Homo sapiens: one gene and its partners. The protein of the gene in region 2 interacts with the protein of the main gene of each other region in a pairwise test. Each region holds a gene or a part of one and is shown on either strand. Other genes may lie near its edges.

Region 1 (3,500 bases), on a different chromosome or scaffold from region 2:
AGATGCGGTATCCCATGGGGAGCAGGCAGTGTCTGAGATAGCTGGTACTAATCACAATAGCAAAATATGGTTACCTTGCAAGAACAAAAAGCATCAAGTATCTTAGCAAACCTTAGGCTTTATAGCCTCTAATTTAGACCAATCAGAATGTTCTAGGAGATTGCCAATCATGGCAATGGCTAAAGTAGAAAATTCTAGGAAGTGAAGTGTGCCTTCTGCCCTTCCAGAAAATACTATCCTGGGAAGTGCCTGCCTTTGCCTTGTGAATTGAGGAGGTGGTGAAATCATGGAAAATGTACAACTCTCAAAAATCAAAATAGGCTAATGTTATAGTGTAATTCTTGGATTTCCATTTTGAAGCAAGCTTTCTTGCTTAAAATTCTTCCAGTGAGTTATTTTTTTGTAAGCAGTTATCACCTTATGTGATTATGAATTAATTTAATTAACATTGACTGGAATCTATTAAAAAATAGAATACATTTCTAAAATATTTAAATTGCAGAAAGGAAAATAAAATTATTTGGAAATTTTAGACCAAAAATTACCTGCTTAAATGGTTAAAAGGGCTCTCTTACCAAAACAAAAACAACAACAAAATAAAAACCAGACTAACAAAACTAAGTAGTCTAGATTCTTCAGATTTGGAAACTTTCTAATCTAGATGATTAAAATGCTAATACATTAAGCAGAGGTGTGTCTTATTCAAAGGTTAAATTCCGATATTTCATATATCCAAAATTACCCTTGAAAATCCCTTAGGAAGCCATACATTAGAATTCAACAATCAGTATTAGAGAATCAGTGTATATTGTTGGTTTGTGTTTAAAAGCTCAGTTATCTTTTAGAATATGTACTTTCTCTTTAAATCCTAGAGTCACACTGCTTATAGAGAAGTGCTCAGACTATGATAGGTATATGGGATTTATGGGTAACTGAGAAACCAGTAAATTCAAATCACTCATGTGATGCTTACTCCAGGGTATATGATTATTGAAAATCAGGCAGAATTGTCAGTACTGCTTACACAAGAAATAGTAACTTTTCTTTCTTTTATTGCCAAGCCTATTAGAGTTGAATTTATAATTAAGTTCATAAAGATACAACTCCACAGTATATGATTATGTTTTTAAAGTTTCACCTGAATTTTTGTATAATGCATTTACCCTTAAAATAGGAAAGCATGATACTATATCATTCCTTTATTCTCTACAGATAATGGATTCTGAATTAATGCATAGTATAGTAGGAAGCTATCATAAACCTCCAGAAAGAGTATTTGTTCCCTCATTCACCCAGAATGAACCATCTCAGAATTGCCATCCTGCAAACTTAGAAGTTACCTCTCCTAAGATACTTCATAGCCCAAATAGCCAAGGTAATGCTGATATAAAATTTGAAGAATGGTAAAAACATGCTATAAAAAACTTTTCATATTTATGTGGAATACAATATGATTGCATATTTAATCTTAACAAAACTCCTAACTTTGATTCTGTTGCTAAAAGTTTCTATGAACTTAGACAAATTACTTGACATTTTTTATTTTGGCTTCTTCAGCCATAAAATGAAGATTAATACAACCAGCTGGACACATATCACAGAGTTATCATAAAAACATCATTTGAAAACAGGAAAATACTCTTTGAAGAATAAAAGGTCAGATTTGGAATACTAAACTAGATGATTAGAATGTTAGTGAATTAAATGGAATTGCATCTTATTCAAGAATTAGATTCAGAAATTACATATATCCAAAATTATTCTTGAAAATATTTTAGGAAGCCAGTATATCAGAGTAACTACAAAATACTAGTATTTTAACGTTTAAAATAGAAATGTAGGAGGATCTTAAAATTGAATTAGGAAAACATTTTATTACTCCAGGCATATTTTAAGCTGTGCAAATTCTTTTCTGAGATGCTGATATCACCTACTTTTAAAATCTTCTATAATAATGGTTGCTGTTAATAAATAAACTAGTTTTGTGGAATAAACTATAAGAAATAATAATGCAAATCAATGTGCCAGCTACAGATATCATGTAAAGAGGAATAAATATAATTTATTTATCTCATTTATAAAAACAAAATGGTAATCTCTAGCAAGCATCTTTCTAATTTGATATAAACTATATGACAGTTAAAACTCTGAACTTATCTGAAGCATGAAGATATTAATATAGTTGAATATAAGTCACAGTAGTATAGAATACTATTATCTTTCAGGTCTGACATCAGGTAAACCATTAGGTTATAATTATCCTGGTTCTTAATACTGCATCATGGACAAAGAAACAGTAAATATGTGTGATTTGACTAAAACGGAATACCTCAAGAACTGAGAAAAAAAGCCTATAACTTTAAACCTAAATTGCCATGTTAATTAGTAGAAATTATATTTTAATGTTCTTATTCATATTTATACTCTTATGCTCCCCAGACTGTACATTGTCTTTAAGTCCTTTCATTTGTAAATATTTTATTAAATTAAAATTGTGGTTATTACCTTTCTCAGTCTTAGAAACCACTAAATACAATAATAGATATAGTGTTTTTACAAGATATATTAGAGAGAAAATGTGCGCCTCTTCAAAGTGTTAGTCATTATTTTTCATTTTTTGAAGAATATGCATTACTTGTACATTTTTCTGGCTCAGTAACAAAAATATACTGCTTATTTTTCTTATGTTACTTTGATTGTAAGTGTTCAGAAACTTTCACTTAAAATATCAACAAAATTTTTTTTCAACAGCTCTTATTTTAGCCTTAAAAACTCTTCAGGAAAAAATTCATCGTTTAGAGCTGGAGAGAACACAAGCTGAAGATAACCTGAACATTCTTTCCAGAGAAGCAGCACAGTATAAGAAGGCCTTAGAGAATGAAACAAATGAGAGAAATCTGGCACACCAGGAGCTGATAAAGCAGAAAAAAGGTAAGAAATGCAGTAGTTCTCAGAAACCGGGGGTTACTGGAGTTTACAGTTCAAAAATAATAAACCTAGTCTAAGCCGATGTACTCAGATATCTTTATTCTTATATATATTCAAACTTCATGACTTTGTTCTCAGACCTTTTGATATTTGTGAGAAAAAGATACAGTTTTGAACTTACCTCTATCATATCTTACTTATCATAATTCATAAATTCTAGAAATTAAAGGAAAAATTAAGATTTTAGACAAGTTGTGTTTAAAAATTAGAATATTTTCAGAATAGCCAACAAACTCCAATTTAACCCGTAATTGAATATTTATTTTTTATTTTATTTATTTGTATTTGCAGTTAACACTAAACTTTAGAATTTGAAATACAGAACAACACTAGTAATTAAACAATGTAAAACCAATAAAAATGAATACAAAAGAATTTTATTTAATGAGAGGAAAGCAAGGTTAATTAGAAGACATAGGCAAATGGGGGAGGCTTCTGTGGAAATTATGAAAAATTTTAGAAATTTAGAACATAAGTCTTTTAAGTAATTTCACTTCAAAACTTAAGACTTT
Region 2 (3,500 bases):
AAGAAAAGTTTATTTACTCTGAAAAACAGGCACAAAATCTCAACAGCAGAAGTTAAGGGCATAAACAGGAGCAGTGAGGTAAAACAGCGGACATGTTCAGCAGAGTAAGGAAATAATAGGGAAACAGCTGAAAGAATTTTAGATAAGCAACTTGATTGGGGTCTAGTACGACATGTGCACGGATACTAAACAAATGGAAAGGGTCAACCTAACTGAAGGGAAAAGGAAGGAACTCTCCATGCTAGGACACACACAGAGCTCTTCATTCTGAGTGCCAAAGCAGCTACAACTTGGCTCAACAATTGAACTTTACTTCCCTACTAATTCTATCTGATTCTGCCTTACTCACCTGAGCAGTCATCTCTTAAGACTTCTCTAGTCTTAGTTTCCAGATCAAAGACCTGTAGATCCTGTTCCAGCTGGGAGATCCCATCAGGCTTGGAAATTGGAAATCCTGCTCATAGAGAAGGAAATGGGATGTGGCAATGTATCCCCAGGTCCTACATCTGCCACTTTTTCTTTTAACTAATGATTAAGAGAGACAGAAGGTCGATTCTGAGAAGACATTAATTAGGAAGGTCTGGAGAGTGAAGAGGGCAAAGATCTACAAGGAGCTCAGATTTGTGCTCTAGAGGGATGTGTGTTAAGGGGCAAGTTGATGACTTGGGAGCAGAAGGATTCATTTAAATATTATTCAGACAACAGAATGTGTGCATGGGTTTGTCTTCACAGAAGTTATCATTATCACTCTCCATCTGTTACCTAAAGATTAATCTTCGGATTAGATCTGGTCTACAAGTATCAAAATGGAGGTCATCAAAATGTAATTCTGCTGGACTGGAGAAAGGTGAAACTCAAGCACCTGCTGCATGGTTAGCTAACCTGTAGCAAGAGAATCAGTGAAAACTGAATAAATATTCTAAGGACCAATCTCAAGAAACAATTTGTTTCAGTACACATAAGAAAACAAAGAGTAATATGACACATTCTTACCCATTAGGAGTGTAGCATTTATTCAACAAACATTTATGAAGTGCCTCCTCTATGCAAAGTATGCAGGGGATAAGAGGCCAAGAAGGTCCCTTCCCTCAAGGACCTCACACTCTACACAGAGACAGCTCTAAACAACTAACTACAATAAAATATAGAGAGGGAAGTGCAATCAGTGCATCTTCACATAAAACAGTCTTTCTATGGCTTGCATAATGCAATGCTTGGATATAAATCTCTTTTAAAGCTAAAGCAACAGGCAGTCTGCTTCCAAGGAGACAGAATTTTAATACTATTAGTATCAAAGGGCAGTTTTTAAATGTGTCCAGCCCAGAAAGCTTCTAATAGCACACATACAAGGTCTGGCTCAAGCCCCTCATCTCCAAAAACCTTTCTCTCCATTTACTGAATGTGTACAAAATTTATTAGTTGTTCCCTCTTATCCTGACATGTCACATATAACGGTGTTTACATAGATTTTTTTTTAAGTGGTTTCAGGTATTGTCATTCATACTTGATTTATAAACTCTTTGATAGAAGGGACCAGGTATCTTGTATCTTGCAATTCTTTTGATTAATTTACTTAACGGCTACTTATTGAGTGCCAACTCTGTGCGCCCAAGTATCAATGTATTAACAGCTACCCAATTTTATAAAAAGGGCATTGGGGCTGGAAAATATGAAGAACTGACAGCTGCCCCAAAGATTCCATGTGAGAGCCTATGAGCAAGGAGATCAGAATAGATAGAAGAAAGGTATTTACTGTGTTTCTGAAATCCTGTGGGACATTTAGAGTCAACTCTCCTTGTGGACATATATTTAATTAAGGTCCACCCTGTCAAATGAAATCGTTTCAGAAGTTTAAAAAGTAAAGTTAGTGTAACATGAAGCAGCAATCAATATTGTTCTCAGAATTCCAATAACATAATTTGCAACTTTTAACTCTGAGATATTTAAAGTGTCTGTCGATATTTGGTAACTGAAATAAATTCTGGCTGCTTACTCCATATCTACACTTAAAACACATATGCACAACAAAAAAGGTGGTCTTCATGTGGGATGAGGGGTTTGATTTTAGATGTGTGTTTAATGTAATGTACGAAGGTATAAGAGAAAATGCCCAGCAGATGAGTACGCAAAGGCATACAGAGTGATAAAATGGACTTCAGAGACTAAGAAGGGAAAGGGTGGGAGAAGGGACAAGGGATAAAAAACTATATATTAGGTACAATGTACACTATTCCAGTGACAGGTGCACTAAAATCTCAGAATTCACCACTATGTATTAGAATTCATCCATGTAACAAAAAACCACTTGTACGCCCCCAAAACTACTGAAATAATTTTTTTTAAAAGAGAAAATGCCTAGCAGGTAAAGATACAATATCACAGTTTAGAAGAGAGAACAGGGTATCATCAGTACCATCAAAATATTATTAAGTTTTACTAAGTACTTGGTAGGTGCAAAGTACCATGCCAAGAGCTCTCTAGGTTTTCACTCATTTAATACCATAAATTTAAAACGTAGAAACTATTATTATAGCCATTTTACAGATGGGAATACTAAGATTCAGAGTGGTTAAGTAGCTTGCCCAAGGTTACAATAACTGGTAATGCTTAGTTTTCAAACCTGCACAGTCTTATTTCAGAACCTAGCCTTTAAACAATCTGCTAGTAAAAAAAAAATTATGATTTTGCCTCCTAACAAGCCCTGAAAAAAAATAAATAATGACTGTGAACAAAATCCATCCCTTCCTCCAAATTACACACAGAAAGAACGTGTAAGTTTTCTTGGCACTAGCCTAAATGCCTATTTCCTAAATTTAACTCAAAACTTTGCTTTCAAAATATGCACTTGCTTTATTTACATTTTTCCTGTTTAAAATTAATGTATTAAAACTTTTTGATTTTATTTAAATCTTGAGTTTTCTAATATGATTTATAAAATATTGACAGTGAAGTAAAAGGTAAATACAAACAACAGAGAAAAAGTGATTAGAATAACATACGGTGAACCAGGATCCTAAATAATTGGAGTCGCAGAAGTGTTAATTAAAAGGGATCTATGGCTGGGCACAGAAGCTCACACCTGTAATCCCAGCACTTTGGGAGGCCATGACGGACAGATCACTTCAGCCCAAGAGTCTGAGACCAGCCTGGGCAACATAGTGAGATCCCACCTCTACAAAAAATACAAAAATTAGCCAGGCATGGTGGCACACGCCTGTAGTCCCAGCTACTTGGGAGGCAGAGGCAGAATGATCGCTTGAGCTCAGAAGGCCGAGGCTGCAGAGAGCCAAGATCACACCACTGTACTCCAGCCTGGGTGAGAGTGAGATCCTGTCAGTCAGTCAGTCAGTCAATCAACCAACAAACGAATCAAGAGGATCTATGGACCAGGCATGGTGGCTCACACGTGTAATCCCAGCACTTTGAGAGGTCAAGGCAGGAGGATCTCATGAGCTCAGGAATTTGAGACCTGCTTGGGGAACATAGTGAGACTCCATCTC
Region 3 (3,500 bases), about 26 Mb from region 2:
CCAGCTACTTGGGAGGCTGAGGCAGGAGAATCGCTTGAACCTGGGAGGCAGAGGTTGCAGTGAGCCGAGATCGTGCCACTGCACTCCAGCCTGGGCAACAGGGACTCTGTCTCATAAAAAACAAAAAACAAAAAAAGAATGAGGTTTGTACAAGCTACAACATGGATAAACCTCAAAAACATGCTAAGTGAAATAAGACAGCCACAAAATGACACATATTTGACAATTCTAGTTACAAAATATGTCCTGAATAGGCAAATCCATAGAAACAAAGGAGAACAGAGGCTATCTGAGGCCAAAGAATTGTGAGTTTCATTTCGGGGTGAGGAAAATGTTCTGGAATTAGATAGTGGCAATGGCTGCACAACTTTGTGAATATACTAAAAACCACTGAATTGGACACTTTAAAAGCACACATTTTATGGTATGTGAATCATATCTCAACAACAAGAAAAAAAATAGTAAAACAAAAAAAAATGGATGAAGGCAGAGCCTGCACTCCCTGGAACTCCATTTGGAAGGTGCAAGTAGAATGGAAGAACTGGAAGGCCGGACACGATGGCTCACACCTGGAATCCCAGCACTTTGGGAGACCGAGGCGGGCGGATCACCTGAGGTCAGGAGTTCAAGATCAGCCTGGCCAACATGGAAACCCCACCTCTACTAAAAATACAAAAAATGAGCTGGATGTGGTAGCAGGCGCTTGTAATCTCAGCTACTTGGGAGGCTGAGGCAGGAGAATCCCTTGAACCTGGGAGGCGGAGGTTGTAGTGAGGCCGAGATGGCGCCAGTACACTCCAGCCTGGGTGATAGAGTGAGACTCTGTCTCAAAAAAAAAAAAAAAAAAAAAAGAACATGGAAGAACTGGAGAAAATGTGTCAGGAGATGGCAGCACAGGCAGAAAGTCATGAGCCTTCCTTGGTCCTCCCTTCCATCTCTAAACTCTGGGCATTCACCAGGCAAGTTCCCATCAACTGTCTCCATACCTTCTGAATGGATTCAGCTCCCATTCACATCACCAGCTGGAACCTCACGCCTGAACCCTGCTCTCATACCCAAATGAAATTGTGAAGCAAGTTGTCAGCTGGAAACAGTTTTCTACAGGCCCTGCTTACCTGCTCATTCCCATGAGTAATCAAAATTGAAAGTAACACATTTCTTTCCCAGTTATTCCTTGGTTTAAATTTTTTTCTCAGACCAGGAAGTTTCAAGTCATTCCCTTCTTCTGTTTCCTTGATCTCTTATATATACAACTTCATCATATACAACGTCATCAAGTCTAACCATCCATTTTGTGGAAGTACTTCCAGAGCTTTTTCTTCTATTTGCACAACTCACAGCTGCTTTAACACATTCCTGGACCCTGTTAACAGGTTCAGCCGCAGCACACCCAGCACGGTGCCTAACATGAAACAGAGCCTCATTAAAATGAAGTTTGTCATTTGACATGTCCTGCACACAGTGGTGTGCTGGTACATGTTTAATAGCCAGCTCTCGGGGGAGGTGGACCCCTGTTTGTAGCATTTGCCTATTCCTATGCTGTAAATATTCCTCCCAGAGCTGATTTCAAACTACCAAAGTGACATTAACGAGGGCACAAAACTCCTGAAAATTTTACAATTGAAATTTTGAGTTTTCACGAGCTCCAGCACAACTACTGCCTCTTCCCCGAATATGACTTTTATCAACACACTCTTCCTCAGTGGTTCCCTGCCATCCACTTCATCAAGTCCAAATCCATCCACACATATTTGAATGTCTTCCTGAATCTGGCCGCCTCCTATCACCTATGATTCCTTAGATGTAACCTATGTTTCTGACTAGGAATCTACCAACTGTGGCCTGAATAGGTTCTGATCACTTTGTTCATCTTTTTTCCTGCCGAGAATTTATGGTGGAAAGGACAAGACAGCTCTCAGGGACCTCTTTTATAAGGCCACTAACTCCATGTAAGAGGGTTTCATCTTCATGACCTCATCATCTCCCAGAGGCCTCACCTCTTAATATCACATGGATGATTAGGTTTCAACATACACATTTTGGGGAGACACAAACATTCAGACCATAGGTATTGGTTAGCTGTTGGAGCTGCATTTAACTCCCTAACTAGATTCAAATCCCTTGAAAGCAGGAAACCCCATACTTGTGTGACCCAGACAATGCTGAGCAAAAGGTGGAGACACAGTGGTGCTGACAATGTCAGTCCGCTGCTCCAAAGACGGAGAAACTTTCCACTAGGAAAAGACGTGCAAAACCTCTGGCTCAGCAAGGCAGGCTCCACACACATCCCTACTTTCTCCAACCCTAAGGGACTAAGACAGGTAGTACTCCAACACAAGCAAAGGACAGGAAAAGGACCAATAAACCCAAAGGTTCAGGGTGGGTGGCAGTGTGATGACTGATTTGGCAGAGTGGTGCCAATGTAAAAGGGACCGGTCTGCCCCTCAGAGCCTGGAGAGACCTAGGAACTGATGGAACCAGGAATTAGAGCTATCTGGTGGGGCTGAATAAAGGAGGTCAGGTCAAATGTTCCCCACCCCGTCCACTGCCCCTATGTGTCCAGATGGCCTCAGCAATCACGAGGTCTCCTTTCTGGGAAAATGGAACCAAAGAGGCCCTTGACTTGGGGGCAGGCTGGAGCAGACAGCAGGAAGGTGGTATACTGGTAACGCGGCTATGAAAAGGAATCTCAATACCAGACAGTGAGAACCTCTGTCCTGCTGCCCAGCTTGGCTCCCAGAATGCCGGTCCCTTGGCACACACACGGGGCAGAAAGAGGAGGACTCAATGGACCCTGAGGAAACACCTACATACTCTAATGTGTGCAGGCTGTCTTTGACCACACTGCAACCTGCCCCACCAAGCACCTGGAGCTCCCAATCAGCTTTGTGATGTCTCTTTTAAATCTTAGTGGTCAAAGATCACCAGCCATTTGAGGAAACCCTCTGTGAAAGAGGTGGCCTCCTGCCTCCCAGCAGCTGCCCTCCCTTCCTTCACAGTAATAGGACTTTTTTTTTTTTTTTTTTTGGCCAGGAACACGTACAACCAGAATTTAGATATTTGCTAGGCTTCTTTGCAGCTAGGCAAAGCCTGGAGAACAGGTTCTGGAAAACATAATTCAGTAGAAGCATCATATGACAAGGACCTTCCTTAACAGAGCTGTACATGCCTTCAGCCTTTCTTCCCTTCTGCTGCTAGAACTCAGAGACCCTCATCTTGGACTACAAGGCCAGAGTCTCACCCCAGAAATGAGAACTGGGTATCTGAAAATATCTGCAGCAGAGTCACCAACTGGCCCTAGCTTGCATGCCTCTACTCTAGCCTTTTACATGAGTGAGAAATAAACCATCTTTAGGTCATTGACAAACTTAGTGCAAAAGGACACAGTCCCCAATATGTAGAAAAACCAAACAGAAAAAGAATGAGATTAAATTATAATCGACAGTCTAAATATATAAAATAATATACACATGAAACAAGAACAGAATGCTAGGGAGGGG
Region 4 (3,500 bases), on a different chromosome or scaffold from region 2:
TCAAAATAAATAAATAAATACATAAAGAATAAATAAATAGCTGGGTGCAGTGGCTCACGCCTATAATCCCAGCACTTTGGGAGGCTGAGGCAGGCGGATCACCGGAGGTCAGGAGTTCGATACCAGCCTGGCAAACATGGAGAAACCCCATCTCTACTAAAAATACAAAATTAGCCGGGTGTGGTGGCACGTGTCTGTAATCCCAGCTACTTGGGAGGCTGAGGCAGGAGAATCACTTGAACCCAGGAGGCAGAGGTTGCAGTGAGCTGAGATTGTGCCACTGTACTCCAGCCTGGGCGACAGAGCAAGACTCCATCTCAAAAAAAAAAAGTAAATAAATAAATACATAAATAACCATGTCACTTCCCGAGTAAAACCCTTCAACAGTGTCCTGTTGTACCTAGAATAAAACCCGAGGCCCCAGAGATCTGGCAGTGCTTGCCTCTCTCATCTCATTGCCCACCATACTCTCCCATGCCCTGTCATCTGGCTTGTCCAACATAAGGCCTTGGCGCTGGCTGCTCCTTTCCTGGGATTCCTCTACCTCCAAATCTTGACTGGCTCCTTGGTATCACCAAAATTTCAACACCAGCATCACCCTCCCAGAAGAGCCATACCTGACCATCAAAATAAATCACTTATGCAATTATTCTCTGCCACAGTACTGATTTCGTTTTTTTCATGGCACATTATACAAATCTCATTTACATCCTTGCTTATTGTTGTTCCTGTAAGAATGTAAATCTCATGAGGCAGGGACCTTGTTTGTCTTTAGCATCTTTAGTGACTAGAACAGTGTCTGACATAAAATCAGCACTCAATATATATCTGGCAACAAATCAGAGTTCTGACTGAGATGCTAGGGAGGGGCGTGTGGCATGTGGGAGGGATCCTGCTCCCTTTTTAAAAGAAAGCTCACTTTAGAGGGAACTGTGCAAACAGCAGTAAAAGCCCAGAAGGAGCCATGCTGAGGAGGGGGCGGGGATACACACGTCATTCTCGGAGGTGCCGCAGATATTGCAACATTTGCACTCGATGCACTGCCAGCGGTATGTCTTCACTGCCGCCATCATCACGGGGGTAAATTGGAGGCAAGATGGATGCCCTGTAGTGGGGGAAGTGAGTGAGACAGACAGTCGGAAATGCGGGGGGAAGAGAGGAGCTCCTGCCTGTGGCTACATCTTCTCTTGGTTAGGAAAAGCGAGGTGGGCTGGTTATGACAGCCCTAGAGGCCAGCAAGCCAAGAGCCCCTTGGGGACTGGGCAAAGCAGCAGCCTTCACGGGAAGCAGTACCTGAGCGGCCACAGTCAGAACAGGACACCAGCTCCTCGGGTTGTCCCGTCTTCTTGTTAATCTTTGAGTCCCCCAGGCAGAAGTCACAGTAGTTGTTGGGCAAGGCCAATCCATCAGGACCCTTTTTGGCTACAGAGAGAAAGAGTTTTGATGACACCCATGGGGGTCCCTGAGCCACTCAACACCCATGCAAGGAGTGGTTTTCATAACCAGGCCAACTTCTGCTTGCCCACCACTTCTGACACCTCAGCTTACATTTCTGCTCCTCAGACCTCTGGGAAACAGGAGTGGGTGGTTGAGAGTCTTCCTTGTCCTCGCCCTCCTCCTCAGCCAAGTGGGAGTGGGCATAGTGGTAACTGAGGCCTGGTCGGTTCTTGTAACGTTTTCCACAAACTGAGTGGGAAGAAGATTGCAGAGAAAGGTGTTAGGATACAAGAGTGCCATGTCCCCATCCCTGCAAGCTGTGGGGGCTCCACCTGAGGCAGAGGGCAACCATCCCTTCCCCTAGCAGCTCCACTCTGGGACAGGCCTTGAGTGACGGCCACTTCCCCTCAGCCAGGAGCATCAGGCCGTGGGGCTCTCTAGCTTCTGGGGCTCTTTTCCCTCCTGAACTCCAACCCCATGGCCACCACTGCTCTTCCATGTTGACTTTTGGGGGGCTTAGCCCTTGCCCCATCACCAGTTAGTTGCTCTGGGATATACTAACAGTCTGGGACGCTCCAGGTCAGGAAAGGGAAGGATATTCCTATATCTTTGGGGTGGCAGGAAGGGGGAAAAGTGGATAAGACTCCAAACTTTTTTACCCCTCAGTAAATGTGGGAGGCTCATGCTACCCCACACACCATGGAGCCCATCTCCCCTGAATGTGGGTAAACAAGCAGGGGATGGGTTTCTTGGGGATAGCCTATCAATGAAGCCAGTTGGGCAGTTGGTCCCCAAAGAAATTCAAGCACACTCCCATGTAATTGCCCTGTCCAGGCCTGCCAATCAGCAAGGAAAGCAGATCCCCATGAGGCATTTTGTCATCTTGAGAAGTAATACCAAGAAGGGCAAGGGGGCCAGCAGGAAAGGAGTGGGGAGAGAGGATGGCAGGAGGAGGTGGTGGGGCAGTGGGGAACATGAGCTGACCACCAGCTGCCTGGTCTGGGGAGGGAGCGGAAGGGTCTGATTGTAATGGGCTCCTGATAATGCTTCTGAAGCCACCCCATGCACTGGGCCGAGCAGCTCTAGGAGCAGGTTTGTGGGAAACAAGCAGTGGTAAAGGCAGCCTTCAGGACTTTGAGGAGTAGAGCACAGCAGAAATTCCACTGCTCCTACCCCCATGCCATTCCAGAGATTTTAAAGCTAGCATCCCAGGAAATGAGAAAGGCAGGAGGAACAAGGGAAGAGGGAAAAAGGGAAAGGAAAACCACAAGTCTGAAAAGTTGAGAGAGCTACCTCTCTGGGGCGCTTTCGAGGTATGCTTTTGTTTGAAACTATCTGAAAGACAGAAAGAAAAGTCATGAGAAGAAGGCCTTGATACACTTGAGACAGGAGCAGCAGCAGCAGGAAAGCAGAGCAAACGAGAGAGAAACCCCAGCGGCGATGGTGCTCCCAGGGTGGAGGGACAGAAGTGGGGCAAGGCAGACAGAAAGAAAAAGAGAACAGACGTTGAAAAACTCAGTGTCAGACCCCTGGGGCCCTGGCTTAACTGAGGCCAGGAGACCTGCAGGCCATCTGTTGAGAGGCCAACCCTGCCTGCTGTGGCCCCCACAAGCAACCCTACCCCAGAGGATGGCAGAAATCTTTCCCAGAGCATGCAGGTCCCACCCGTCATATAGCAGGGACCCAGGCCTCCCAGGGGTCTCAGACGGAAGCAGTCAGCAGGCAGGACAAGAGCCCAGGTTTGTTTTAATACTCTGGGCAAAAACACAACCCTCCCTCCTCTCATATCCAGAGCAGGAGCTGGGTCCAAGGCAAGGTCTACCCACCCACTTGTGAGGCACTCACTGTCACAGGCATAGGGCTTATCCCGGTCCTCCAGGATGGAAGCATCCAGCTTCTTACGGGCACTGCCCACACCCTTACCCTGCCAAGAAGAGCAAAGAGACACCCTTATTTTGGTAGCTGGGCCTGAGGAGTTAGACTCTTTTGGAAGTGGCCGCTAATCTCACTTGAAATAAAATAAGGAATTCCCTAGGCCACCCTGTCCCAAGATGCAGGCAGCA

The links.
Region 1: the proteins of ZNF655 (region 2) and CEP57L1 interact in binary tests that used the Homo sapiens proteins (3 or more experiments, as listed by UniProt).
Region 3: the proteins of ZNF655 (region 2) and FKBP6 interact in binary tests that used the Homo sapiens proteins (3 or more experiments, as listed by UniProt).
Region 4: the proteins of ZNF655 (region 2) and DPF2 interact in binary tests that used the Homo sapiens proteins (3 or more experiments, as listed by UniProt).

What each region holds. Positions count from the first base shown.
Region 1 is NC_000006.12:109,144,007-109,147,506, forward strand, and holds part of CEP57L1 (centrosomal protein CEP57L1), read left to right. Parts: intron 1-1,212; 5' UTR 1,213-1,215; coding exon 1,216-1,375; intron 1,376-2,751; coding exon 2,752-2,931; intron 2,932-3,500. UniProt on the Homo sapiens protein: Centrosomal protein which may be required for microtubule attachment to centrosomes.
Region 2 is NC_000007.14:99,568,642-99,572,141, reverse strand, and holds part of ZNF655 (zinc finger protein 655), read right to left. Parts: intron 455-3,500; coding exon of another isoform or gene 350-454; intron 1-349. UniProt on the Homo sapiens protein: Probable transcription factor.
Region 3 is NC_000007.14:73,334,661-73,338,160, reverse strand, and holds part of FKBP6 (inactive peptidyl-prolyl cis-trans isomerase FKBP6), read right to left. Parts: intron 1-3,500. UniProt on the Homo sapiens protein: Has an essential role in spermatogenesis. It is required to repress transposable elements and prevent their mobilization, which is essential for the germline integrity.
Region 4 is NC_000011.10:65,343,852-65,347,351, reverse strand, and holds part of DPF2 (zinc finger protein ubi-d4), read right to left. Parts: intron 3,362-3,500; coding exon 3,283-3,361; intron 2,773-3,282; coding exon of another isoform or gene 2,731-2,772; intron 1,687-2,730; coding exon 1,549-1,686; intron 1,423-1,548; coding exon 1,294-1,422; intron 1,106-1,293; coding exon 993-1,105; intron 1-992. UniProt on the Homo sapiens protein: Plays an active role in transcriptional regulation by binding modified histones H3 and H4. Is a negative regulator of myeloid differentiation of hematopoietic progenitor cells. Might also have a role in the development and maturation of lymphoid cells.